Linked DNA regions of Homo sapiens: all the other regions are reported to be linked to region 1. The links are microRNA targets in miRTarBase. Many come from high-throughput screens and were not tested one by one. Region 1 holds a microRNA gene; each other region holds the end of a gene's coding sequence. Distances are from middle to middle.
Evidence for each region. Region 1 holds the annotated microRNA hsa-miR-30c-1-3p (CUGGGAGAGGGUUGUUUACUCC, at 2,024-2,045, shown strand). A microRNA usually pairs through its seed, bases 2 to 8, with sites in the 3' UTR of a target mRNA and lowers its output. Matches are read on the target gene's strand: a 7mer-m8 pairs with bases 2 to 8, a 7mer-A1 pairs with bases 2 to 7 and ends in A, and an 8mer does both.

Region 2: the mRNA of NAV1 is a reported target of hsa-miR-30c-1-3p. Seed matches in the 3' UTR shown: 7mer-m8 at 1,483-1,489 and 7mer-m8 at 3,680-3,686.
Region 3: the mRNA of MTSS2 is a reported target of hsa-miR-30c-1-3p. Seed matches in the 3' UTR shown: 7mer-m8 at 807-813 and 7mer-m8 at 902-908.
Region 4: the mRNA of SEC61A1 is a reported target of hsa-miR-30c-1-3p. Seed matches in the 3' UTR shown: 7mer-m8 at 2,161-2,167.
Region 5: miRTarBase lists MOB1B as a target of hsa-miR-30c-1-3p. Seed matches in the 3' UTR shown: 7mer-A1 at 4,077-4,083.
Region 6: the mRNA of KLK10 is a reported target of hsa-miR-30c-1-3p. Seed matches in the 3' UTR shown: 7mer-m8 at 2,621-2,627.

Annotation. Positions count from the first base shown.
Region 1 is chr1:40,755,316-40,759,402 of GRCh38, forward strand. MIR30C1 (microRNA 30c-1) reads left to right here and starts at 1,969; the gene lies at 1,969-2,057. NFYC (nuclear transcription factor Y subunit gamma) reads left to right here. Exons shown (of 10, transcript NM_014223.5): 6 at 2,806-2,979.
Region 2 is chr1:201,819,302-201,823,388 of GRCh38, forward strand. NAV1 (neuron navigator 1) reads left to right here. Exons shown (of 34, transcript NM_001389617.1): 34 at 536-4,087. The coding sequence ends at 631. The region is part of intron 1 of IPO9-AS1 (IPO9 antisense RNA 1); the gene reads right to left. Among named protein-coding and RNA genes, the nearest start is that of IPO9, 7.8 kb to the right of the region's middle.
Region 3 is chr16:70,660,036-70,664,122 of GRCh38, reverse strand. MTSS2 (MTSS I-BAR domain containing 2) reads left to right here. Exons shown (of 15, transcript NM_138383.3): 15 at 1-2,919. The coding sequence ends at 446. It overlaps IL34 (interleukin 34), which reads right to left. Exons shown (of 6, transcript NM_001393494.1): 6 at 3,441-4,087. The coding sequence ends at 3,936. Among named protein-coding and RNA genes, the nearest start is that of IL34, 16 kb to the right of the region's middle.
Region 4 is chr3:128,069,424-128,073,510 of GRCh38, reverse strand. SEC61A1 (SEC61 translocon subunit alpha 1) reads right to left here. Exons shown (of 12, transcript NM_013336.4): 12 at 1,828-4,035. The coding sequence ends at 3,849. It also overlaps a transcript of RUVBL1 not described here. Among named protein-coding and RNA genes, the nearest start is that of RUVBL1-AS1, 4.3 kb to the left of the region's middle.
Region 5 is chr4:70,981,568-70,985,654 of GRCh38, forward strand. MOB1B (MOB kinase activator 1B) reads left to right here. Exons shown (of 6, transcript NM_173468.4): 6 at 413-4,087. The coding sequence ends at 490. Among named protein-coding and RNA genes, the nearest start is that of DCK, 10 kb to the right of the region's middle.
Region 6 is chr19:51,011,483-51,015,569 of GRCh38, forward strand. KLK10 (kallikrein related peptidase 10) reads right to left here. Exons shown (of 6, transcript NM_145888.3): 5 at 3,935-4,068; 6 at 1,257-3,470. The coding sequence ends at 3,318. Among named protein-coding and RNA genes, the nearest start is that of KLK9, 3.9 kb to the left of the region's middle.

The DNA of each region.
Region 1 (4,087 bases):
AGCAAGTGCCCCATTCTGGATTGATCCAGTCATTAAAGCATTGTTCTGCCACTTGGGGCAACCTCCCACTGCTGGGAAAAGGAACTAGTCAGAAATACTGAATTGTGAGTCCAAGGCCCTGACTTCTCAAAGATACTTGAGAGTTTCGCTTGTTCTTCAGAGAAGCAAGTAAAGATTATTTGAAGGTAGGAGGTAGTTGAGGCCTGACTTCTGCCCCACTAAAGCTATTGAGTTGAAAGTTCCTGCCCATTGAAATGTCATTATCTTTTCACCCATTTCTTTAAACCAAGCATAATCATTTCCTTGCTGGCTTGACCTCCATTGGCAGAATGAGTCTTCATAATGCAGAAGAGCCTTAGATATGCCTTCTTCCATTCCAGTGATTTGAGAACAGTTGTGCCTTGTCCTAACAACACAAACCTAGGTGCCTCCACTTGATTCTCAGTGTCCTAGATACTGTCTAGTTCATAAACAGTTTAAGAGGATGTAGTAAGCAGCATAGGAGGAGCTCTTGTCCTGCTCTCACAGCTTTTGGCAAGAGATATTTTGGGTTCTGGAAGGGGTTTTTAAAGGGTTTGCTTTTTGTCTGACAAAAAGATCATATTCAATACTAGATCAGCTGTAGTTGGGGATAACTGGAGACTAAACAATCACAGGTCACGGCTAGAAAATGCAGGTGTCTCCCTGCTGCCTAGCTTCCTACACAGCTGGTTCTGAGGCTCTCATTCCTGTATACCCTCTCATTACCCAAGAGCTTTTCCAAGTTAGGTCTGGATTTCAGTGATTTGTGCTTTTTGTAAAATAATAAGGGAGATCTCAGTGGAACACAAGTACCTTGAACCTACTTCAATAGCTTTGCAAAGAGCAGTTGGCTTCTGTTTCTTGGCTGCAAAAGGTATCAGTATTTTAGCTTTGCCACAGCCAATACCTAGTTTCCAGGCTGACATTTATTTATAATGATGATAAGTTGGGGTTGAAATTGTTGTGGAAATTGAGACCTAGATGAAAATAAAAGGGAATCTCCTTTTCCTTCTGCCTTAGCATAATCATATTGAGGGTTAAAACTATTTGTGTCTGAAGCACAGACTATATCAACCTAAAAAGTCAGTTCATATATTAACTTAGAAACCCAGAATGTTACAGGTATCTCCCTAAGCTGGGTAGATGGCTGTCAAGTAACCATGTCATGCAGAGACCCATGTTTCTCAGGGGTAGATACTGGCAGTCCTAGTTTTAGTATCCTAGCCCCCAGACATCAGGCAAACAAAGGATACTCAGCTCTGTTCCACAGGGGACACTAGCTGCTTCCTCACACTGTGGCCACAGAGTCTTAGAGGTACCAAAAGAGAGTTTAGAGACTACTTTTTTCTATTGGTAACAGCTGTTGGGTTTAAGAGAATTTGTCATATCAGCAAGTTGGATTCAGAGAACTACTTTCCTGCCTCTAACTGTCTGCCTGTCTAAATCCATTCATCATTCATCACGCACTTACTGAGTGCCTACCTGGGAACGCGGGGGATAGCAGAGAGCAAGAGAGAGCTAGGCTTTGCCCTCATGGTGCTTAACATTTTAGTAGAACAGACAGTTAATTTGACATGCAAGTGCAAAAATGTATACTGTGAGGACAGTACTTTGGAAGCACAGTTGAGGGCACCTAACATAGTGTGGGGATGGGGTCAATACCAGCTTTGTAAATGTTACTTTGGGGAGTTGGAGGCAATCCACAGGGTCTGTGTACATCTAAGAAGTGTCTTTTCCTCTTTTCTGGAACGTGGCAAACTTTGCCCTGAATAAGGACATGAGTAAATTTAGCTAATATTTTTACTCAGCCAGCCCAAGTGGTTCTGTGTTTTTATTGTTTTTGTTGTCCCAGGCAGGGGCACCATGTGTCACACAGGTCACTCCGGATCAGACGCCGTTCTGTGTCAGTGGTCAGGGGCTGATCAACCCTGGACCCTGTGGGCTATAACCATGCTGTAGTGTGTGTAAACATCCTACACTCTCAGCTGTGAGCTCAAGGTGGCTGGGAGAGGGTTGTTTACTCCTTCTGCCATGGAAAACATCAGCTGAAGAAGGAACAGTCTCCACTCCGCAGATCGGACAGAATGCGACCTCCCTAATCAGCCAAGGCAGTACCCCAGCGGAGAGCTGTCCATCAGGCCCCCTGGGTTGCGCTTCTGTGGCTAAGTACAACCAGAACCAGATGTGACACTGGATAGACATGCCCTCAGTGACCACAGAGCTTTCAACAAGCTGTGAAAAGCTGGGTACTTGCCTACCAGTGCTCTCGATCCTGAAATTTCAGCTCAGGAAAAGCCCTGTTTCCCATTAACCTGTTCTGTCCCCCTTGAAGTGGTGGGGCTAAAACGAGAAGAGTGCTGCCTATTTGGGAGATTGGGACCAGGCCTGAGAGGCATGATGTTTGGGTAGCATCTTCCCAACACTTGCAATTAGCACTGTTCTCAGATCACAGGCCTTGACAGCATTTACTGACAAGCACTGCTGGTGTGTGGTTTTTAGTTACGGTACTTATTTGCCCGTTTGCAACTTATCATGCAATGGGTGATTATTTCGTACTTCAGAAATTGGCTGTATGTTTTGTGAAGCCTATAGGATCTGTTATTTTTAGTTTGATTTAGCATAACTGGTCTCTTTGAATTCCACTTTCCTTTGGCTTCAAATGTGGAGAGCTCAGCATTCAGCAGGCAACTGCACATAGCCTGTTTGGGGGAAGAGTGGAAATTCACTGTGGCGGCTGCTGAGTTGGTTCTTTTCCTCTTACCTGCCTCTCTTTCCACCCAACAGGAGGAGGTGCGCCAGTCTGTAACTCCTGCCGAGCCAGTCCAGTACTATTTCACGCTGGCTCAGCAACCCACCGCTGTCCAAGTCCAGGGCCAGCAGCAAGGCCAGCAGACCACCAGCTCCACGACCACCATCCAGCCTGGGCAGATCATCATCGCACAGCCTCAGCAGGGCCAGGTCTGTGAGCTGCTGAGGATGCCCATCCAGCAAGACAGTGCCCCTTAGGTTTTTGGATGGGCAGAGCTTGATGAGGGCAGAGAGGCAGCCAGATCATTATAGAGCACTGGATTTAAAGTCTGGAAACTGGAACTTTTCCCCAGATTCAGCTACTGGGGTGAGATGTTACCCTAATCTCTCTGGACCCTGTTTTTCTCAAAGGTCAAATGAGGAAAGTGTACTAGACAGTATGTTCTCCAGGATCCCTATTAGCTCAGAAATTTTAGAAGGGAAAAAAAAATGTCTGAAATGCCTTATGAAGAGTAGAGGTGCTAAAGTGAACTCCATGCCTGCTGTCTGTGTGTCTGTGTGAGAAGTGGAATTTGTGCCCTTAAAGGGAGAGATTAGGTATCATTGCCAAGTTGCATACTCCTTCTCCCCGTCATTTCTCTGTCCCATATTTGTGTTAAGTGACCTTCTCTTTTTACGATAGTAATCAGAGGACTCTTTCTCTCCCCAGTAGTAGTGTTAAGAGCAGTAGCATTCATGTTTGTTGGGGGTCATGTGAGGCTGCAGAGAACTCTGTACTATGAGCTCTGAATCCAAATTCTCTGTCAATCATTATTTATTCATCAAACACTGAGCATCCTCTGAGGGTAAAGTTCTGTGCTATGTATTGGGGATACAAGCATGAATAAAACAGTCCTTATTTTCAAGGAATTCACAATTTAGTTGGGGATACAAATACTTAAAGGTTGTACCACCACGTGGGAATGTGTACAGGGTGTTAAAGGAACACATTAAAAGAAGTACCTTGGCTCAGCGCAGTGGCTCATGCCTGTAATCCCAACACTTTGGGAGGCCAATGTGGGAGGAACCCAGGAGTTTGAGGTTACAGTGAGGTAGGATCATGCCACTGCACTTCAGCCTGGGCAGCACAGCAAGACCTCTTCTTTAATTAAAAAAAAAAAAAAAAGGCAGGGGCATGTGGTGGCTCATGTCTGTAATTCCAGCACTTTGGGAGGCCGAGGCAGGAGGATTGCTTGAGCCCACGTGTTCAAGACCAGCCTGGGCAACATGGTGAGACCTTGTCTCCACCAGAACATCAGAACATTAGCCAGCCATGGTG
Region 2 (4,087 bases), 160 Mb from region 1:
TCCCTTGTATAGCAGGCATACTCCCAAGTAATTGTTGTACATACACATGTGTCACAGTTATCATTGAAGAAATCCTCATTGCCTTTTCACAAACCACTCTAAACTCTGAGCTCTTCATCACTGAGAAACCAAGGATCAGACCCATGATCTAGATTTTTTTTTTTTTTTTTTTGGAGACAGAGTCTTGCTCTTTCATCCAGGCTGGAATGCAGTGATGATATCAAAGCTCACTGCTGCCTCAAACTCCTAGGCTCATAGGCTCGAGTCATCCTCCCACTTGGGCTTTGGCATCCTGAGTAGCTGGGACTGTAGTTGTGTGCCACCACGCCTGGCCAGTTTTTTATTGTTTTATTTTTATTTTTTGGTAGAGTCAGGGTCTCTCTTTGTTTTCAAAGCTGATTGCAAACTCCTGGCTTCAAGCTATCCTTCCACCTTGGCCTCCCAAAGTGTTGGGATTTTGTTGTTGTTGTTTCCCTTCTGTGGGCAGGACCCAGAGTCCCAACTCTCATAAATCCATCTTTTTGCCCCCCTTTAGATGGCCATGCTGCTGAAACTTCAAGAAGCTGCCAACTACATTGAGTCTCCAGATCGAGAAACCATCCTGGACCCCAACCTTCAGGCAACACTTTAAGGGTTCGGCAATCACTGTCACCCCCGGACAGCAGAACGCTGGCATCAGCTATCTTAGCTCCTCCTCTCCCCTCTCCTCTTTCAGAGCACTGGCTCTCCAGCCCCAGGAGGAGAACAGGAGGGAGGAGGAGATGAAAGAGGAGGGACAGGTTCTTGGTGCTGTACCTTTGAGAACTTCCTAGGAAGGAATGGTGGGGTGGCGTTTGGGAACTTGTGCCCCCTAAACACATTTACTGGCCTCCTCTAATGACTTTGGGGAAAAGATGATTCTGGGTCTTTCCCTTGACTTCTTGTTTCAATTACAAACTCCTGGGCTTTCTGGGGAGGGGTTCAGAAAACATCAAAACACTGCAGCAGTTCCTAAATGATTCTCACAAGCAACCCTGAGAGAGACAGTCTTGTGAGGGAGATCTGGGGGAGGCAGGAAGCTCCTCAGATTTTCTCACAGACCCTTCCCAATTCCATCACCACTGCCAACAACTCCTCCCCCAGAGATCTGGCTGGAGCCCAGAAAAAGAAGCATGTGGTTTAAAAAATGTTTAAATCAATCTGTAAAAGGTAAAAATGAAAAACAAAAACAAGCAAACAAACAAAAAACAATGGAAAAGATGAAGCTGGAGAGAGAGGAACCAGTTGCCAAGGTAGAGAGCTGCCCGCTCCTGCCCTCTGGATGACATAGGGGACATCAACAAGACGGCTGCCAACCTGAGAAGTCACCAAACCACAAAAATAACCTTACAGCCTTCAGGGAAAGACTACCAGCTCTGTCTTTCTACCCTCTAATTTAACAATGCATAAGAGTCAATAAACCCTACTTTTTTATTTTTGGTTTTTATTTTGTTTTCATTTTTTTCTCCCATTTGCCTATTTATTTTTTTGTTTCCCTTTTTTTTTTCTTTTTCCGTTTTTCCATTTCCTCACATGTCCACGAGATGCTTGGGTTGCTTTTCCAGGGGCTAGTTTGGCTTTTCCAAGTGGGTTTTCTTTGGAGAATCTGATGCCATGCAATTGGCATGACACCTGCCATGCCACTATCTTTGGCATCCATGGGGCTTATATGAGACATGAAGCATTGGCTCAGAAGTAGAGGGAGAAGAGGAACCCAGTTCCCTTGACTTCCCTTTTGAGAGCACACGTTCTGCTGGGTAGCTCAATTGCCAGCCTCTGTCATGAGAAGGTATAGCCCCATCTTGATAGAAGAGTTACTCCGAGCTTTATCATGGACCAGAGGAAAACCAGAAAACTGAAAACATTCCTCTGTCTTGTGGCCAGTTTGGCCTTTCACTGCACTATTCTGATGGTGCCTGACTGAATCCAAATATCCTAGCTGGCTCTTACTATTTTTCACAAATGAGTATTCACATATAAGAGATGAACATCCATGTGAGATCATCCCAATCAGAATATAAGACTCAAGGAGTTTGACTTGGTGGCCAATACCTGCCTTCCAAAGAGATCCTACCTTTGCAGATTTGCTCCTTTCCCATTGCCTTGAAGGTCTGGCAATCCCTGTTCTTTCATTTGACAAGTACTTACTGAGTACTCACTATATACAAATCATTAGGTTAAAACAGACACACACACACACACACACACACACACACACACACACACACACACAAGACCTGGGCCCTTAAGTTTACAGTCCAGCAGGAAATGTTAACCTCCATTCAGCTACGCCCCCTTGTTATCTAGACCTTCGGGATCATCTAAGAAATGTAGCTGAAACCCAAGGAGCCAGCTAGAAAGAAGCTTTTGATTAGATGTACAATACATTGGGGGCAGAAGATCTGGGATCAATTAAGATGGAGCCTGAAGGACTATGGAATCTTGCTTGTCAGGAATGGGCAAGTCTACTTCCTGCCATTTCTGAAAGCCCCGCGGGACCAGCTTCTAGGCTGAGCTGCCTAGTAGGCTGAAGCTTCAGGACTCTGCAGGTCAAGGATATGTGATGAGCACCGGCCTAAGTGTTTGCTCTTCAGATTCCTAAGTAGCACAAGACTTTATCAGAATCTATAGGCATACCAACCTGGATCACTCTTCCACCCAACCGAGGAGTAGATGCATCTGAATCTTCATATCGGTATATTAAGTCCAAAAGATGGTCCGGGCTGCCCCTCACAAAAGCTTCTGCATCCACGTGGTAAGCTCCCATGGATGACAGGGTTCTGTATGATGGAGACTATTATTGCTATTGCTGCTAATTCCATGAGCTGTGAAGATCCCTAACCAACTCAGCTGTAACATATGCAATTCTGTGGTGGGAAGAGGCTGTGTGTCCAAGGATGGTGCTGAAATCACTGCCTTAAGGTCTCTGCTGTGCAGAATGAGGAGGCCCCCGAGCTGGCTGTTCTAACTTAGAAGGAAGAGAAGACTGGATGGGCCTGCTTGGGATCTAGGCCTCTTCTAAACCCTATCCTAAGCTCCAGTTCCATGGCAAGGCTCAGACTTTTAATGCCATCTTAATCTGATGGTTGAGCGCTTCACTCTATTTTCTGGTGCTGCCCAGCCAGTGCCTTCTGCCATGGATGTTACTGGCTACTTGAGAAAAAGGAGAGGGGAGAACCCCTTCTTTCATTCCAACTGCCTCCGACCCCAAAGGGATTCTTGGCTCTCTGGTAACCATGGATACCACCATGAATTTTATTTGGATCCTCAGCAGGTTGATTCTGGAGGCCTCATGCTATGACTTTTTATTTCTCTTCCTGGGATCCACCACCCTCTACTCTCAGCTGACTGCTGCATTTAGGCCAGGTCTCCAATTGCTTTCCTCCAGAAAGTGTGTTCCCGTCTAGTGAGGTAGTATTGAAGCCTCGGCTTTCCCTCTGGAGCCTGGGACCCTGTTTACAGTTGCACATCTGGGCCCCTCACTGTGGGGATTGATCATTCTCATGAAGGAATCACAGTTATATGGCAACTGCAGAAGGCTGAGCCTCCTCATGGTGCTATAACCCCTTGGGACACTCATCCAGACTTCTCTGAAGCAGAAAACCTGAGCTCCCCACTCACTGCCCTAGAATTTATGGCAAGGAGCAAATCTACAGCATTCTCTCCCACCTACGTCCTGCTTCTTGGTTGAGACTACTGGGATCCTTCAGAAAAGAAACACTGGGTCCCATAGCTAAATTCTCAACCGCCAGGCACCTTCAGAAGAATCCAGCCTAATACTGGAATTTGTGCTATTATCTTCCTCTCCAGCCCCCCAACTCCATCCCTCACCACAGTTGTCTAGGAAATGACATGAATTCAATATCTAATGTCAACCAATGGGGAGAGCCACAACTCCAGGAGAGGTTCCTGAGCTGAGTCCCTTAATTTCTGGATGAAGAAGACCAACAAGTTTTGTCCAATGTATTTGTTTCTCAGACCTTGCCTAGGCACTAAAAATAAAATACTAGGTCATTGGAGGCTAATGTGGGACCTGATGTCTGCGTGTGTGTGTGTGTGTGTGTGTGTG
Region 3 (4,087 bases), not on the chromosome of region 1:
ACTCCCCCGGCTACATGGGGCCCACACGGGCGGGCAGTGAGGAGTGCGTCTTCTATACCGACGAGACCGCCTCACCCCTGGCACCGGACCTCGCCAAGGCCTCCCCAAAGAGGCTCAGCCTGCCCAACACAGCCTGGGGCAGCCCATCCCCAGAGGCAGCCGGGTACCCCGGGGCAGGGGCCGAGGACGAGCAGCAGCAGCTGGCGGCCAACCGGCACAGCCTGGTGGAGAAGCTGGGGGAGCTGGTGGCGGGTGCCCACGCACTGGGTGAGGGCCAGTTCCCCTTCCCCACTGCTCTGTCGGCCACCCCCACGGAGGAGACGCCCACCCCACCCCCAGCCGCCACCAGCGACCCCCCGGCCGAAGACATGCTGGTGGCCATCCGGCGTGGGGTCCGGCTCCGCAGGACCGTCACCAACGACAGGTCGGCGCCCCGCATCTTATGATGGCGCCACCCTCCCCATCCTCTCAGGCCCCAGTGCGAGCAGGTGGCCTGGTCTGTGAGCCGCAGGCACTCAGAGCAAAGGCCCAGCCAGGAGAGAGGACAGAGCCAGGGCAGAGGCCATGCCACTTTATGGAAAGACACCTCACTTGGATTCCAGCATTTAAACAGGAAGTGACTTCTTAGCAAGCCTGGCCAGGACGGAGCCTGCAGGCCTGGGCCTGGTTCGGGGTCTGTTTTATGCTCTTCGGTCCCTCCTCTTCCTCCTCTGGGGCCCTGCCTCTTCCCTACCCATAAGCACCAGAGCCAGGGCCGCTGCCCATGACAGAGGGGCCAGGCTGGCCTCCCTTTCACCATCCCGGCCTCTCCCAGGGCTGGTCCTGCCTCAGCTCCTCCTGGAATGCTGGCCCCCCTCTCCCCTGCCTGAGCCCCCTCCTCCCCTCTTGCCTTCTCTCTGCCTCTCCCAGGCCCCTCTCCCTCCAGGAGGCGGGGCGGCTGTGGAGGGGCCAGGTGCACGCTGGGCTGGATGTCTGCTGGGGGCTGGGGGCCAGGGCGGCAGGTTGGAGTTGGGCGGCCAGGCCCCCCGTGTGGGAAGGGAGTTCCAGGGCCCACGCCAAGTCTCAGGGAGGAAACCAGGGGCTGCTTGGGGGGGGGGGTCTTGGGGGCCCTGTGGTGGCTCCCACCCCTCGCCTCCCCCACCCCGTGAGGCTGGCTGGAGGGGGCCAGAGCAGCTCTTTGGAAACTAGGGCAGCAGGGTTAGGAGGCCGGAGGCCCTGGGGTCACCGGCCAGCCACACAGGCACCGTTTTCAGATGTCCACTTCTCATTGGGTACATCAATCTTTTAACTTTGGGGGTCACAGTTTTAGCCACCTTTCGGGGGGTGACTGGAGCAGTAGGAGGTGTGGGGTCATTTTATGAATATAATAAAATGGAGCTGACTGTGGACGAGGACTAAGTGTGGGGGAGAGGGGACGATACAGGGTGTGTGTCTGGGAGTGCCTGGGGGACAGGGACCCCCCGGTGGTCCTATGGCAGGATGAGAAGGGAGGGACTTGGCTCCCCCAGAGCCCGGTGGAAGCTACTGTTCTCTCCAGTGTCTCGAGCGTAGCCAAAATAAGGTTGGGAGGCTCCCGGCCTGTCTGCTGTGGTCTGAGCTGGCTGCAAGCCCAGGTGGGGGAGCGAGTCTGGGAAGATTGGCTTTGACTCTCTGTTGCCGGAGGAGATGCCATCCCAGCACGGCCCCCACTGTAGTCCAGGCTCGTGGTGGCAGCGGGGGCAAGGGGAGGGGCAAGGCTGCCCCCACCCCACGCACCAAGTCACGCCAAGTCTCAGCAGGTAAAAGCACGTGAGCCTAGGGCGAGCGGAGGGAGTCCTGGTGGCCCCGCAGGTCAGGAGGGAAAGCAGGGCTCAGAGGGCATCGTGGCCCCAGGGCAGGGTCCTACCTGGGGGTCAGGAGCACCTTGGTCTTGATGATTGATTGATTGATTGATAGAATGGAGCTGGGTCTGAGCCTCCCAGGCTTGAGCTCCTGGGAGTTCTTGTGCGGTGAGCTGGGCAGCTCCTGGGTAGGTCCGGGCACCAAGCAGGCCCTGATGTGGACAGAGTCCCATCAGAGGGAGCTGATGAAGAATGGTCCCTGTAAGTAAGTCACTAGGTTCAACAACTGCCTGGCCGAGCACTCAGCCCGTGGAGCTCAGGCCAACACCAGAGCCCCGGTTTTAGGGGCCAGGAGAGCAGGTGACCAATTATTTGGGGAGTCTTGGGTAGAATTTCCGCCACACATTCTCCCCAGGGCTGCAGGGGTCTTCCGAGGCAGGGCGGTGGAGCAGGATTCAGGATGTGGTGGGAATAGAGTGAGGGGCAGTGGGTGGGCAGACCTGGGCGTCAGAGGTCCTGATGGGAAAGGAGGCAGGGGCTACCCAGAGAGGGGGGCTCGTGTGGCACAGCCCCCACCGACTCCGCCGTCCCCCTCCCCTGTGAGCCCCGGGGGCTGTACATACTCTACTCCATCCCCTTGTCCATCCCTGAGACCACCCCCGCCGCCCTTGCGTCGACTTAGCAACCACCTCATAGGCCCACCCACCTCGGGATCCGAGCCAACCATCCCACATCACAAACTTTGGTTTGGGGGACTTTACGTTCGTTTAATTTCTCATTTTGTACGGAGAAATATTCTTTTCAAAAGCGTCTTTTGACTGAAGTAACTTTCCTGGTGCTGTTGTTAACTCGTTCCTTTTTTTAATTTATTCCCCCACCCCAGGCAGCCCTCCTGGTTCCTACTCACCCTCCCCCCCTCCCCCACCCTCCGTCCCATCTGAACCATTTGTTTCTTTTCTTTCCGTCAGATTTTGGAAAAATTCTCCTCTCCTCCCCGCCCCCTCCACACCATCCTCCCCGATTTAAATATAGTCACTGCTACAAGTAACAGATGCACTGTGAAGATTCCAGTATTAATAAAGGTGTACTGTAATTAACACCCCTGCCTCTGCCTGGCTGCTTCCTACCCCATCCCCACACCTCACCTTTCCCACCCCAGATCCCAGCTGCAGGGGGACAGGCTGGGGGTTCCCAGAGGATCTCAGATCTCAATGTAGGTGCCAGGGCCAGACCTGGGTCTCTGAAATGTCCCATATGTGTCCCTGCTAGGGGCTGCCTGGGGGCAGCCAGATGGAGGGAGGGAGGGAGAGAGGGAGGGAGGGAGAGAGGGAGGGAGGGAGGGAGGATGGCAAGGGTCAAAGCCAAGGTATCAGCCCAACACCGCCTCCCCCAACCCAGGCTTGCAGAGGCCCCTGGGCTGGGCTGGGCTGGGCTGGGCTGGGCTGGGCTGGGCTGGGCTGGGCCGGAACTCCATCCCTGGCATCCCTCTCATTCCACATCCCTTGGGCAGGCTCCATCCACTCCAAATCCGCATCCTCAGCCCTGCCCCCCTCCACTTCCTGCACTTGGCCACCTCCCATCCCCGCCAGGTTCACCCCTGAAGATGCAAAGCAAAGCAAACCAAAGGAAGTGGGGTGTTTAATAGAAAAAAGAAACTGGAAGAGCATCCACTATGGCAAGATGTGGCACTTGGCACCGCCCTCTGCCCCCAGCTCCCCAGTCTGCCAGGCTGGGGGGTCATAGAATGGCCACGCCGTGCTGGCTGTCTCCCCTGCAACCCACAGCTGTGCCCTCACTGCTGCGGGCCACAGGAGGCTCAGTACCCCCTTTAGGCGGGGGGACAGTGAGGGCAGCACCAGGAGAAGCCAGGAGCTGTGTCCCCATCCACCTTCAGGTCCCCAGGTCCCCTCCGCTCCAGGTGAGGCCATGACAGCTATGGAAGGCAGGAAGCTGAGCCCTGCTGTGGCACAGAATCCCCCTCAAAGGAAAAACACCCTTCCCAGGGGTCCTCTCCCAAGGGGGGCTCCCACCACCACCCCTTGAAGTCTCAGACCCAGTTGAACTCCTGTGGGAGCTGGTCTGGCTGCCCCTATCCGCAGTCACCATCCAGGGTGCTCAGGGCAAGAGGCCCTCGCCCTGTGCCCTGACCGGCCTCACCGAGCCCGTGGAGTGAGGCGGGGAGCTGGGGGACCACGGGGGCGGAGGGTACAGCTGGGTGGCCGCATACTGCAATGAGGGCTCTGGGCTGCAAGACTGAGGACTTGGCA
Region 4 (4,087 bases), not on the chromosome of region 1:
TCGGACAGTGCCACATGCCCATCCCCTGGCCCTCATCAGGAATCCGTTGCTCTTCCCCAGGCCATGGGGCTCAGACCCCTCAGAAATGAGATGGGAGGCTCATCCCAGCCTTCCTGAGGACTTCATGCTGGCCTGGCTTCAGCAGGAGCAGGCTGGGGGCGGGGTATGGGGTAGGGCATCAGCAGGTCCAGGGAGGCAGTGGTAAAGCAGCACCATGGATGGAGCGGAGTGCCAGTTGAAGCGGGTGCTGCCCCTGAGCCAAGGGCAGCAAGGGGAAGCTCCGGGGGTGGGGCCTGTTTCCCTAGACTCCTCATTCCTTGCCCCAGCTACGTCCCTAGCAGAAGTACCTGCAGGCAGGACCAGCAGCCAGACAGGGACTTGGAGTAGGAAGTGAGCCTTAGGCTTTTTGTCCTGGCTCGGGAGCTAAGTGACTTTTGGCCACACTCTATTTCCCTGGGCCTCAGTTTCTTCACCTGTAAAATGGACGGACTTGTTTCCTCCTGGGCCTCTAGTGGGGTGAAGTGAGAGCACATGTAGGAAGTGGCTGGGACAGTGCCTGCCCCAAGGGAAAAAGCAGAGTAAGCCTTACCCCCCCATCACTGTGCATTAGTTCCCTGTGCATGGGGAGGAGCCAGGTGGAGAGACACCAGGGCCTGCCATCTTGAAGCGTGCGTGGCTGCTGGAATGTGGGCTCCGTTTGCTCTCAGGCAAGAGGGGCCACGGCCACAGGTGCAAACGAATACCTGAGGCACGAGAGATGGCCTACTGCTTCCCTGGGGCAGCAGGTTTTCTAACATATTTATACTGGCAAGCACCCTGCCTGCCTCAGCAATTCACAGCGCCTGGCTGGTCTGGAGCCTGAGGCCACGTGCTGTGCTCCTGTCCAGGGCCTCCCTGAGCCCTGAGGCCAGCAGGTGCAGAGGGAGCGCGGGGCAGACCTGGCTGCACATGTGTCCTAGCAGTCTCAAAACACAGTGCTGAGGTGTGGCTTCTGCAAGGCCAGGCCCACACCTGTCCATCAGGTGGTCTCAGAGGAACCATCCTGCTCTGACCCAACTCCCCTTGGAAATCAGTTTCCAAGACAAGGTCTAAGACTACAAGGAAATACTGAGGCTGGAGCCCAGCTAAGGAGTAACGACCTCCCACAGCCCTGGTCAGGCCTGCCCTGGGGTTGCCCACCCACCTGCCCCTCAAGTTCCTGAGGAAGCACCAGGCCCAGGTGGTGGGGACGGCGGCAGGTTTGGGGTGAGGCCCTGTCCAGGACTGGGGAGAGTGGAAATGTGGCCTACCACTGGGGGCTTGGTGTAGAAACAGAAAGACTTCTAGACACGTTCTAAGGGAGCAGCCACAAGCCTGCCACTCCCACCCACACAACACTGGGTCCTTCTGGCTTGGCTACAGGTCGGGTCTGAGGCCAGCCTCACAACCAAGTTAAGACTTCTCCAATCACCAGCTGGGTACTGGAGCTGAGGCTCAAAGGGCTTCGAGTTATGGGGCCCTAGGCTCCTGCTAGAAGGTTCCCACTCTTCCACGGGGTGGCAGGCGCCCTGGCTCAGCGGAGGCCTCTGCATTCTCACGGGACAGCCAGTGCACTCTGCCTCACGGGCAGAGCCCTGCAGCAGCTCCACATGTGGCCCAGCACCCATATCACTTTATCACAAATGTGAGCACCAGGTTGACATGACCATCAGAAGGGAACTTTTCCAGGCAAAATGCCTGAGTGCCCCAACCAAGCCTTTGACACACACAAAGCTGCAACCAAGCTTTGCGCCTCACTGGCCTTTTTGGGAATAAAATCTAATTTAAAATCAAGAGAACATGATCAAGTACCTTGTAAAAAACTGGCTTTATTTGTCACTTATTCACCTTATCTCAGTTATGCCATTTTGGCGTCCACAGTGACAGTCCCCTGGAAGCTGGGGTCAGCCCCCACCCACCCACCGTGACCATCACCCACAGGGCGTGAGTGTGGGCCTTGCAGGGCCCAGCCGATGGTTACAGGCTGCAGGCGGGACTATGGGGCTCCTCCTGAGGCCTGGTGCCTTCCAGCCCCCTGCCCACCAGCTTGGGTACAGCTGCCTGCCTGCCAGAGGCCAAGCATTCCTAAGCGTGGGCTGGGGGAGGCCCTGCCCCTCTGTAGCAGCAGAGCAGACAGGGCAGTGGGAGAACCATGTGGGTAGGAGGGCATCAGGTCTCAAGAGCCTCTCCCCTGCTCAGGACTGGGTCTAGACAAGGCCACGTGTGATAGGGTGGTAAGCCCTGGGCCATATGGAGGAGCCTGGGGCCCATCTTGGTTCTGCTGCTGAGTTGCTGGGTGGCTTTAGGCAAGTCCCTTCTTGTCCCTTGGTCACTCTGTTTCCTGGCTAGCACTGCCAGCAAGGTCTCCAGAGTGTGCCCCTCTGCCGGGCTGTGGCGGTGGCCCTGTGCTTTGCAGGCTGCCGTGTGCCCACTGTCAGAGTGGGGTCTCCCCGACAGGCTGCACGCACCCCCAGGCCCCCTTCTTAGGATCAGGGCATCCTGCAAAACATCCTTGGTCCCACCAATGTCTAAAGCCAGCTCGAAACCTCGAGCTCCTCAGGATCTTAGCACCCAACTCTGCTGCCCTTGCTGCTGGGCAGTGCCTGTCCTAAGAGGGGACTCCCTAAAGGCCAGAGAGAGGGTGCTCATCTCCAGGACCTAGGCCACCTGTCAGCACAAACAGAACTTATTCCAGACATAAACATGAGTCTTCTTATTTCAAACACTGGAGCAACTGATCAACACCACCACAGCCCATGCACCCCGAACCTGACTTCACTACCAACCTTGAGCCTGTGCTGTCCTCTCTCTGCTGACGACACTGGTGACGCAGAAAGGAAGTCGGTGGTGTCTGCTCACTTGCGTGCAGTCCTAAGCACAGTAAGAAAATTCTGAACACAGCTGGGTGATCTTCAGCCCAGAAGGTGTAGGGGCTTGTGAGCACTAAGTCAGTTTCTGTCCATGTCTGATAGCTACCACAATGTCTCCCCTTGCTAGGGCAGCTGCGAGGAGACGTGTCCAGTGATGACTGGCAGAATCTGGACAAACGGACATCACTGCAAGGGTCTGTCCACCTAGCTTGGCCAGGCTCAGCTTGGCAGAGCTGATGACCCAAGTGGACTAAACACGGAGCTAGCAGAAACAGGCAGACTCTAAGCCCAACCAGAAGAGTCAGCTAGAAGAGCCAATAGGTGCACAGACAAATCCACAGATGGCCAGGAGTGTCTTCTGGGAAAGCCATCCCTCTCTTTTGGAAGAAGTTCTGTCCTTAAAAAAATCACTTTTAAAATAAGGGAAAACAATGGTGTCTTAGAGAGAAACAGTCCTAAGCCAGATATTCCCACGCCTGATTGTGAAGGAGACATGCCAGCAAGGTCCCACGTCTCCGGGAAATACATGATCTGCTCCCAGCTTCACACCCTACTGCCAAAATGAAACGTAGACATTTCAGTGTTTGTGCTTCCAACCAGAGTGAGAAATTCCCTTTGTGGGGAAACAGGTGAGACGGCTGCAGCCGCATACAGCACTGAGAAGGTGCAAAGGTTAAAACAAAAGTTACATGGACACTTGGGGACAATCCTATACCATTCCCACTTCTCTGGCAGTCGGCTGAATAAAATTTCACTTTCACAGTTCTTTTTGCCAGTGCCAGGATAAAAAGCAAAATTTTAAATTGGAAAATGTCTAGCACTTTACACAGTGGAATGAAAGAATACGAAATTCAAAAACATTATTAAAAGTCCATATGCCGCAGCAGCACGCGCCATGATGAGAGCTCCCCTTCCGAGGCGCTTCTGGAGCAGCTTCCTCAACCTGTCCGGGAGACGGGCTCAGAAGAGCAGGGCCCCCATGCTGCCAACCTCGCTTTGCTCCTTAACGAAGATCTCAAAGTACTGGTAGATGATTGTGACTGCGAGCAGGATCCCGGTTCCAGACCCAATGGCGCCTAGGAAGTCAGCCAGGACCGAGAGGGCCCCGATGCACAGCCCACCAAAGGCCGCGGCTGTGGGGATGTACCTGGGGGAGGGGACACAGTCAGCTCCTGGACACCCACAGAGCTCCCCGTGAG
Region 5 (4,087 bases), not on the chromosome of region 1:
TGCTGAATTTGCCTGAGATGCTAGTGTTTTGTGTGTGTGTCTATGTCTACTTGGTTAACTGTATTTAAATGGTGTCCAGATCATTCCTTTCAACAGGAAGCAGCAACTTCCATTTATTGTTACTTTGTGTCAGGCATTACATGAAGTAGTTAACATCCAGTATCACATTTAGTCCCCACAATAATTTTATGAGATAGGGGGATTTATCCTAATGTCACAGATGTAAAAGCATAACATCAGGAGTGCTTAAGTGATTTACCCAAGACACAGACCTAGTGAACAAGAAAAAAATAATCTACTTTTATGTACTTCAAAAGCTAATTTCCAACAAATGTTCATGGTAATTTACTTTGGAATAAGATGCAAATAATGTTTTTGCTATTTATTCTGCCTTTCTTTATATCATGCATAGGAATTCAACCTTATTGATAGAAGAGAACTTGCACCACTCCAAGAACTGATTGAAAAACTCACCTCAAAAGACAGATAAAAGGATGCAGAGCTGTGCAAATTGTTCCTCAAATGAAGCAGTGTGGAGTGTATTGGGGATTTTGTTATATTTTGTTTTTATCTGGATTGTTTTTGTCCTAGGTTTGGGGGCGGGGGCTTGTTTGGGTTCCTTTTTCTTTATTCTGATTATGTGAAACCATATTCTATTGCTAGGGGAAGCCAAGAACCATTCTCTATACACTTGATAAGGGTAAATTTATCTTAGTGTTTTTAAACTTGGTTTTGGTTACTTGAGGAGTTTTTTAATAATATTGTGTGCTGCAAGAAAGTGCTTGTTGATTGAACTGCCGATGGATTGGTTTCTGTGTGGTATAAATTGTGGCCCATTTATGAAGTCCCCAAAAGAGTTATGTTTTTAAGTGCCTTGGCAGGCTCACTTCTGAGGTGCAAAACATAGATATAGAACTGAACAGGGCTTGAAACAATATTAGGATTACTACCCAGGGCACTTACTGGTGCATGTTGTAACATATCTATGATAAAAGCCATAGTTTACCTAAAATGGTGATTTCCAGCCTTTACTGCTTTGAAGAAACAGAATTTGTAAAGGTATGCATGTAGAACATAAAAAATATTTCTTAATTATTTTTTATATTGATGGTAATATATTACGTTCAACAATGCTTAAAGCTCTACAAGCAGGTCTTTTCCCACCTCTTGATATCTGTGATACTGAAACTTGAGGATGTTGAAATGTATTACATTTTGGCTTCTTTCTACATGTTAACTGCACTGTAGATGTAAAAATTCAGGTTATATATAGGATTGCCATCTTCAGAGGTGATGCTGAACTGTGAGGTTTCCTAGTAATTGCCAAATGAGCCGTAAGTCTGCAGAATTCCCTTCTACTTTGAAGAGAAGGGGATAGGAATGTATATTTGGCTGGGGGCATGGAGATGTTCGTATGTATGAGGAGTTAGGGATGGGGAGTCAAGTTCTAGAAAGTTTTGTCTGAAAACCTTTGAATAGAATGGCATGAAGATTTTAATCAATTACTTATAAACAAAGTCTTAGAGACTTCCTTTTAGGAATCAACTTCCATGAGAAGTTAAAAATAAATTATTAATTTTAGGTACAGACATTAAACATGGAATTTAAGGACTGTTGGGGGAAATTGATCACTTCTTAGCATTTCCATTCAGTGAATGGAGCTGATGTTTGCCTGTCATTTTAAGATGATACCATACCTTCTTTGGTTATTATAGGTCCAGTTTGAAGCATTCTGACTTCTGGTTTTTCCACCCTGAAAGGAAATGTTTTTCTTTGCAGCAGTATTAGATAATGAAAAATGCTAATTCAGTAGTTATTAACTTCTAAATTTTATTCGCCATGACTTTCTAGTGAATTATTACCATAAATAACAATTTCAGAAACTTAGTTTTTAGAATAAATATTAATTTTTCCACTTCAGTTTTATTCTAGAAAATACCCTTTTTAGAAATCCAGTTTTAGTTTTGTCATTTTCGATAAATCTTTCTTCAGTTAGAAATATATATCCTTCCTTCAGTTGAAACATATACCTTTTTCACATCTAGGAAGAAATGCTTGCTCTGAAATAGTATAGATTAAAAACACTCAGTAGAAAAGAATCTAAAATTAAATGAATTTGTTTTGCCATTAAAGTAGAGCAGTGATACAATTTAATGCCATTACAATTATGTTGACTAGAAACTGCCTTTTTCTCCACTTCATTTCTAGCAATTATTTACCAAGTACCAACAGTAGAAGTAACAGGAAAGCCTGGCAGAGTTAAATATCTTGGACATTTATTGGTAAAGCTTATTTATAAACTGCAGTCAGAGCTAGTTAATTTCCTTAAATCTTTTTGTATTCAGATAGATAATATGAATCATTATGGGTTGATTCAGAAATAAAATTTGTGAGGTGATTTTGAATCTTGTCCATATAGGAAAATGAAGCACAGAATTACTCAGTCTTCCATATTGTATTTGACTTCATATCAATCTAGTAAAAAAGGAGTTGCAATAGCCAAGTATAGAGAGAATAGTGAAAAATTAATCTTGCCCTTTCAAGCCTTATACAGTAGTACACTGTACTTGTTTTTAGTAGTAAGACCTACTTTCCCACTATATGTAGATAGTTTGTTTTCACTGTGCCAGAATCTCAGGTGCCTGCTTAGAGTATTTCTTTAATCACAGTCACTGGGAAGTAAGGAGATGTATATATGTGTATATATGGTAACAAAGCATAGCAGTTCTCTAGGGGAGAGGCCTGGCATTGCACATGGTGTTACATGGCTACAAGTAAGGAAAAAATCAGAAAGTGAAAGAACTGATGTAATAAAAGGTTGATTTGGTTGGTTCCCATGAAAGTTAGTAAGATGCCCTTTTAAATATAAGGATCAGTGCTTTGTTCTGCAGCAGAGTTTGCTGATAAATGTCTGTTGGATTCTTTTTGGATTTCTTTAATTAATTTGTAAGTAACCAAGATAATTATTTTCCCCCTTGCTCTCTATATTAATACGTAGCTATAAAGCAACAGTTGGTTTTCTTATCCTTTGATAAAAGCATCCCATAAAATATAAAGTAGTAAGTTAACATAGTATTATTGTCACACACAATGCTTTTTTTGGTTAAATGTTGATACGAAGCAATGTTTTGGAATTACTTTAATTGATGGAGTAGTGGTGGTAGAGAGAAATTAATAACAAAAAGAGTGAAAATATTTTAATTAGCAGTAGATGGTGCTACTGGCTTTCATTTGCTGACTTGATTATTCCCTTTCTCTTAAAAACCATGGCATTAGACTGCACTAAATTAACAAGCATGTTAGTTGCTGGTAGAGGTTTTGGAGGTTAATTTACCTTAAATTGGAAGACTTTTAATTGCAGTCTCTTTCTACCTTCCCTCTGTTAGTCATTTGTAAATTCTAAATGGTCACCATAAAATGTATTAGGTAGGAGAAGATACGTTTTATGTATAATATATCTCAGACTGAGTTACTGCCTGTCTTATCAGGATGGATAAAACACTACAGTCTCTTATCAGGAAATAGAGATGATGTGGATATTTATATATTACATATATAACCACCAGACTCCATTTTATATATTAGCATTTTCCTTGCTTATGGGAAAATAGCAAAACAACATTTCATTTATACTTTTGTTTACCCCTCTCTGAGACAGGTTTTGATAACCACTGAAATGGTAGAATATGTGAGATACAAATATTGAGTTGTAGAACTTTCTTTTTAAGGTGAATAAGTCATGCCTTAACATCCAAATAAGAGTTCATCTTCAGAGTGGTTCTTTTGGGAGCACTGTTTATTCCAGCTATACTGCAAAAGTATAATGTTTTTGGAACTGTTCTAGAGCATACCATGAAAAGCAGTTTGTTATTATGCAGGAAAATCAGTTTCATCATTTTAGTTACACTAAACACTTTTGGCAGCTTAATATGACCTTTTTAAATTTTTTTTATTTTTTTTATTTTTATTTCTTTAAGATGGAGTCTTGCTCTGTTGCCCGGGCTGGAGTACAATGGCATGATCTCAGCTCACTGCAACCTCCACCTCCTGGGTTCAAGCATTTCTCCTGCCTCAGCCTCCCAAGTAG
Region 6 (4,087 bases), not on the chromosome of region 1:
TTCACCCTTGCCTGCAGTTGTCTCACTCCCTTTCCAGACAGGGAAGTCCTTGAGATCAGGGACTGGGTATCCACTATGTGCTAAGTGCCACCTTAACTGCTATTAAGAGCATTTTAGACCAAGCGCGGTGGCTCACGCCTGTAATCTCAGCACTTTGGGGGACCGAGGTGGGTGGATCACTTGAGGTCAGGAGTTCAAGACCAGCCTGGCCAACATGGTGAAACTCTGACTCTATTAAAAACACAAAAATTAGCCAGGCATGGTGGCGGGCGGCCTGTAATCCCAGCTACTCGGGAGGCTGAGGCAGGAGAATTGCTTGAACCCGGGAGGCAGAGGTTGCAGTGAGCCTAGATCGTGCCACTGCACTCCAGCCTGGGCAACAGAGCAAGACTCTCAAAAGAAAAATAAAAAAAAAATGAGCATTTTAATAGCTACCTTTATTGACTGTGTTCTCAGTGCCTGGTGTTAGGTGAACTTTGCATGTATATTATCTCATTTAATTATCCTTTTGTTGTTGTTGTTTTTTGTTTTTTGACACAGGGTCTCTGTTGCCAAGGCTGGAGTGCAGCGGCATGATCATAGTTCATTGCAGCCTCAACCTCCTGGACTCAAGTATTCCTCCTGCCTCAGCCTCCTGAGTAGCTAGGACTACAAGGTGTGCACCACCATGCAAGGCTAATTTTTTTTTTTTTTTTTTTTTTTTTTTTAGTAGAGACGAGGTTTCACTATGTTGCTCAGGCTGATCTTAAACTCCTGAGCTCAAGCATTCCACCCATCTCAGCCTCCTAAAGTTCTGGGATTATAGGAGTGAGCCACTGCGCCCAGCCTATCTCATTTAACTCTCACGGGAGTCTAATTAAGCAGGTGTCTCCATTTCACAGAGTGAAAACTGAGGAAGAGACAGCATTCAAGTAATTTGCTCAAAGTCATACAGCAAAGTGATTGAAATGCATTTCCTTCTCTACCTGGTGAACTCCTACTTATCCTTTAAACTCCTGCACAAATGTCCCCTCATTGAGAAGCCTTTCCTGACTCCTTCAGGCACAGCCTGTGGACTTGGTGTGGTGCACCCCATACCCCCTTCTGTTACAGCACTGATCTATTTGTGTTATGTGTTCACACAGCAACGGGGGTGACTTCTGTGTGCCGGGCACAATACAGGAGCTTAGAAAATCACAGTGAACAAATATCTGAATCACTGCCCTCACGGAATTTGTGGGGAAGGGTGACATAGACCATTATCAAGTAAACACAAATGAGATAATTTCAGGTATAATAGGTGCTATTAAAAAAAAAAACAAACAAACAAAAAACAGAGCATCGGGACTGGATGACCAAAAGTGGACTCCTATAGCCTGGGCAATTCAGGAAGGCCTCCCGGAGGAGGTGACTTTTGAGTGGAGACCTGAATGACAGGAATGTAAGACTGGCCTGTCTCCCTGACCTAACTAGCAGCTCCTTGAGGGTAGTGCCTGGTCTGATTCATCTTTGAGGCCTGGCATAAGACGTGGCTCGATAAACATTGTGGAGTGACTAAAGGGACGGGTGAGTTGCCTTTAATAATGAATCGAGTTTTCAAGTTTCCACCGACCTCGCTTCTGGTCTTTGGATGACAAACCCAGCTGATACGCCTGTCTGACATTTCCTGCGTGTGCTAATGGGGGCAGAATGGGAAAGAGGCCACGGAAGGGAGCTGTGTGCTCAGACCTTGTACATCAACCTCCTGTGGGCTCTGCAGGGTGGGGGACCTTGTGATCACCCCTACGTATGTCCCCAGCACCCAGCACTGGGCCTGGCACATAATAGATGCTCCATAAATTGGTAACTGAAAGGACAAACAAACAAACAAAAACCCCGTGCTTAATGGGAAATTTCTGTTGTGCCTATATTCAGCTAGCTTATGTTACTGCTTCAAAGTTCAGGATAAGCTGAGACACTCAAACTTCTTCTTTTTTTGAGATGGAGTTTTGCTCTTTTGTCCAGGCTGGATGGAGTGCAATGGTGCAATCTTGGCTCACTGCAACCTCTGCCCCCCGGGTTCAAGTGATTCTTCTGCCTCAGCCTCCCAAGTAGATGGGATTATAGGTGCCTGCCACCATGCCTGGCTAGTTTTTGTATTTTCAGTAGAGATGGGATTTCACCATTTTGGCCAGACTGGTCTCGAACACCTGACCTCAGATGATCTGCTTTCCTCGGCCTCCCAAAGTGCTAGGATTACAGGCGTGAGCCACCACACCCAGCGGACACTGAAGCTTCTATTAGCCTTACCTGGATTCTGTGTATTAACTCCCCTTCCCTCCCCCAATTTCAGGGAGAATCAAACAATTCCTCCTCCCAAGTTTTCAGGACGAAAATCTCACAGCCAATTAATAACAGACAAACCAAAGATTTTCCCCTAAATGTCAGAGGGAGGTTTCTTGGCACAAGCTGGGCAGTTGAGGTGGCAAGGGTTTCCCAATCTTCACTACCCCCTCGGCCCTCTGGTCTTAGAGGCTGGGATAGAAGCAAGGTGAGGTCCCTTGAGTTCAGTGGCCTCATGAAGGCAGAGAAGGTGCTAATGACTCAGGGCCAGCCTAGCTCGGAGGAACTGGTGTTGGGTGGAACCAGAAGTGGGAAACAGTGGGAGATGAGAAGGAAGTGGTTAAAAGGTGTTTCCTGGGACTTGGAACTAGGGTGAGGAAAATGATTCTTCCATCATCCCTAAGGGTTGGGGATGGAAGGTTGGGACTGGGGGCTACCCTGTGCACTTCTTCCCTGGACACACGCTTTCACCGGGACGTGGTCAGATCACGACAACAGGTAACCTTTAGTCAGAACTCACCACCCACTGTGTTAAGCCTTACATGACAATCACCATGAAGATTTACATACACATGTTATATCATAGTCTCCTCACAACATGTCTAAGAGGTAGGCACGTCATTGTTCCCATTTTGCAGATGAGGAAACTGAGGTTCAGAGAGGGCACTTGGCTTGCCCAAAGTCACACAGCAGGGAGTGGCAGAGGAAGTCAGGTTGGGTGACCCCAGTAACTGCTCTCAGAGGCTGGGTGATGACCGGCTTCCTGGCTTCTCTGGAATAAACCTTTGCCACCACTTCCTGCATTTCAGCTTCAGTACAGGCAGAGAATGGGGATAGGTGGGGGAATGAGGTGAGAGGGGAGATGTTTAGAGGTGTGGAGGGCGGCAGAGGTTTGAACAGTGCAGACAAGGGGAGAGTTCAGCCGACTGGGGAGGAAGAGGATGGACGATGGAGCCTCTGGGCATCTGGATCAGCAGGAGCATAACATCTGGATCAGCTGGAGCGTAGCATCTGGATCAGTTGGAGCGTATGACTTTATTGATCCAGGACATGTATTTGCAGATCTGGGTGTAGACAGCTGGATGCTGGGCAGAGCCACAGGGGTAAACACCCCACGAGAGGATGCCTTGGAGGGTCTCGTCACAGACCAGGGGGCCTCCAGAGTCACTCTGGGGGTGGCAGGAAGGAGAGATCAAATAAATGTGCCAACGTGAGAGCTGTCACTTTGGGATCTGGGGCAGTGGTGGGGAAGGAAGGAGTTGGGTTGGGATAAAGACGAGGATGGGATGGGGTTGGAATTAGGTATGAGCTGGAAGGTAGGAATGGAGGTGGACTTCAGGTTATGGGAGGTTGGGCTGGGGGATGAGAATGAAGGCACAGTGAGACTGGGGTTGGGATTGTAGTTCATGGAAGGTGAGGGGATGAAAATGGGCTTGGAGATGGGAATGGGGTGGGGTTGGGATGGAAATGGGATTGAGGATAGGGATGAGGAGGGGGTTAGGTCTGGGTAAGAGTTGGGGTCAAGGATGGGTTTGGGAATGGAGTTGGGGATCGGGCACAGGGTCTGCTCTTTTCCCATAACCTCCCTGTCCTCCCTCCCAGGAGTCAGAGACTCTCCCTGTTCAGACCCTACCTGGCAAGGGTCCTGGCCCCGGTCCAGTCCAGCACATATCATGTTGTTGGTGACCACGCCAGGGTAGAAGACCTCACACTCTTTAGGGCTCAGGATAGTGATGCTGGAGCAGGTCAGGCCCTTGTTGTACTTCACTGAAGGGAGAATATGCCA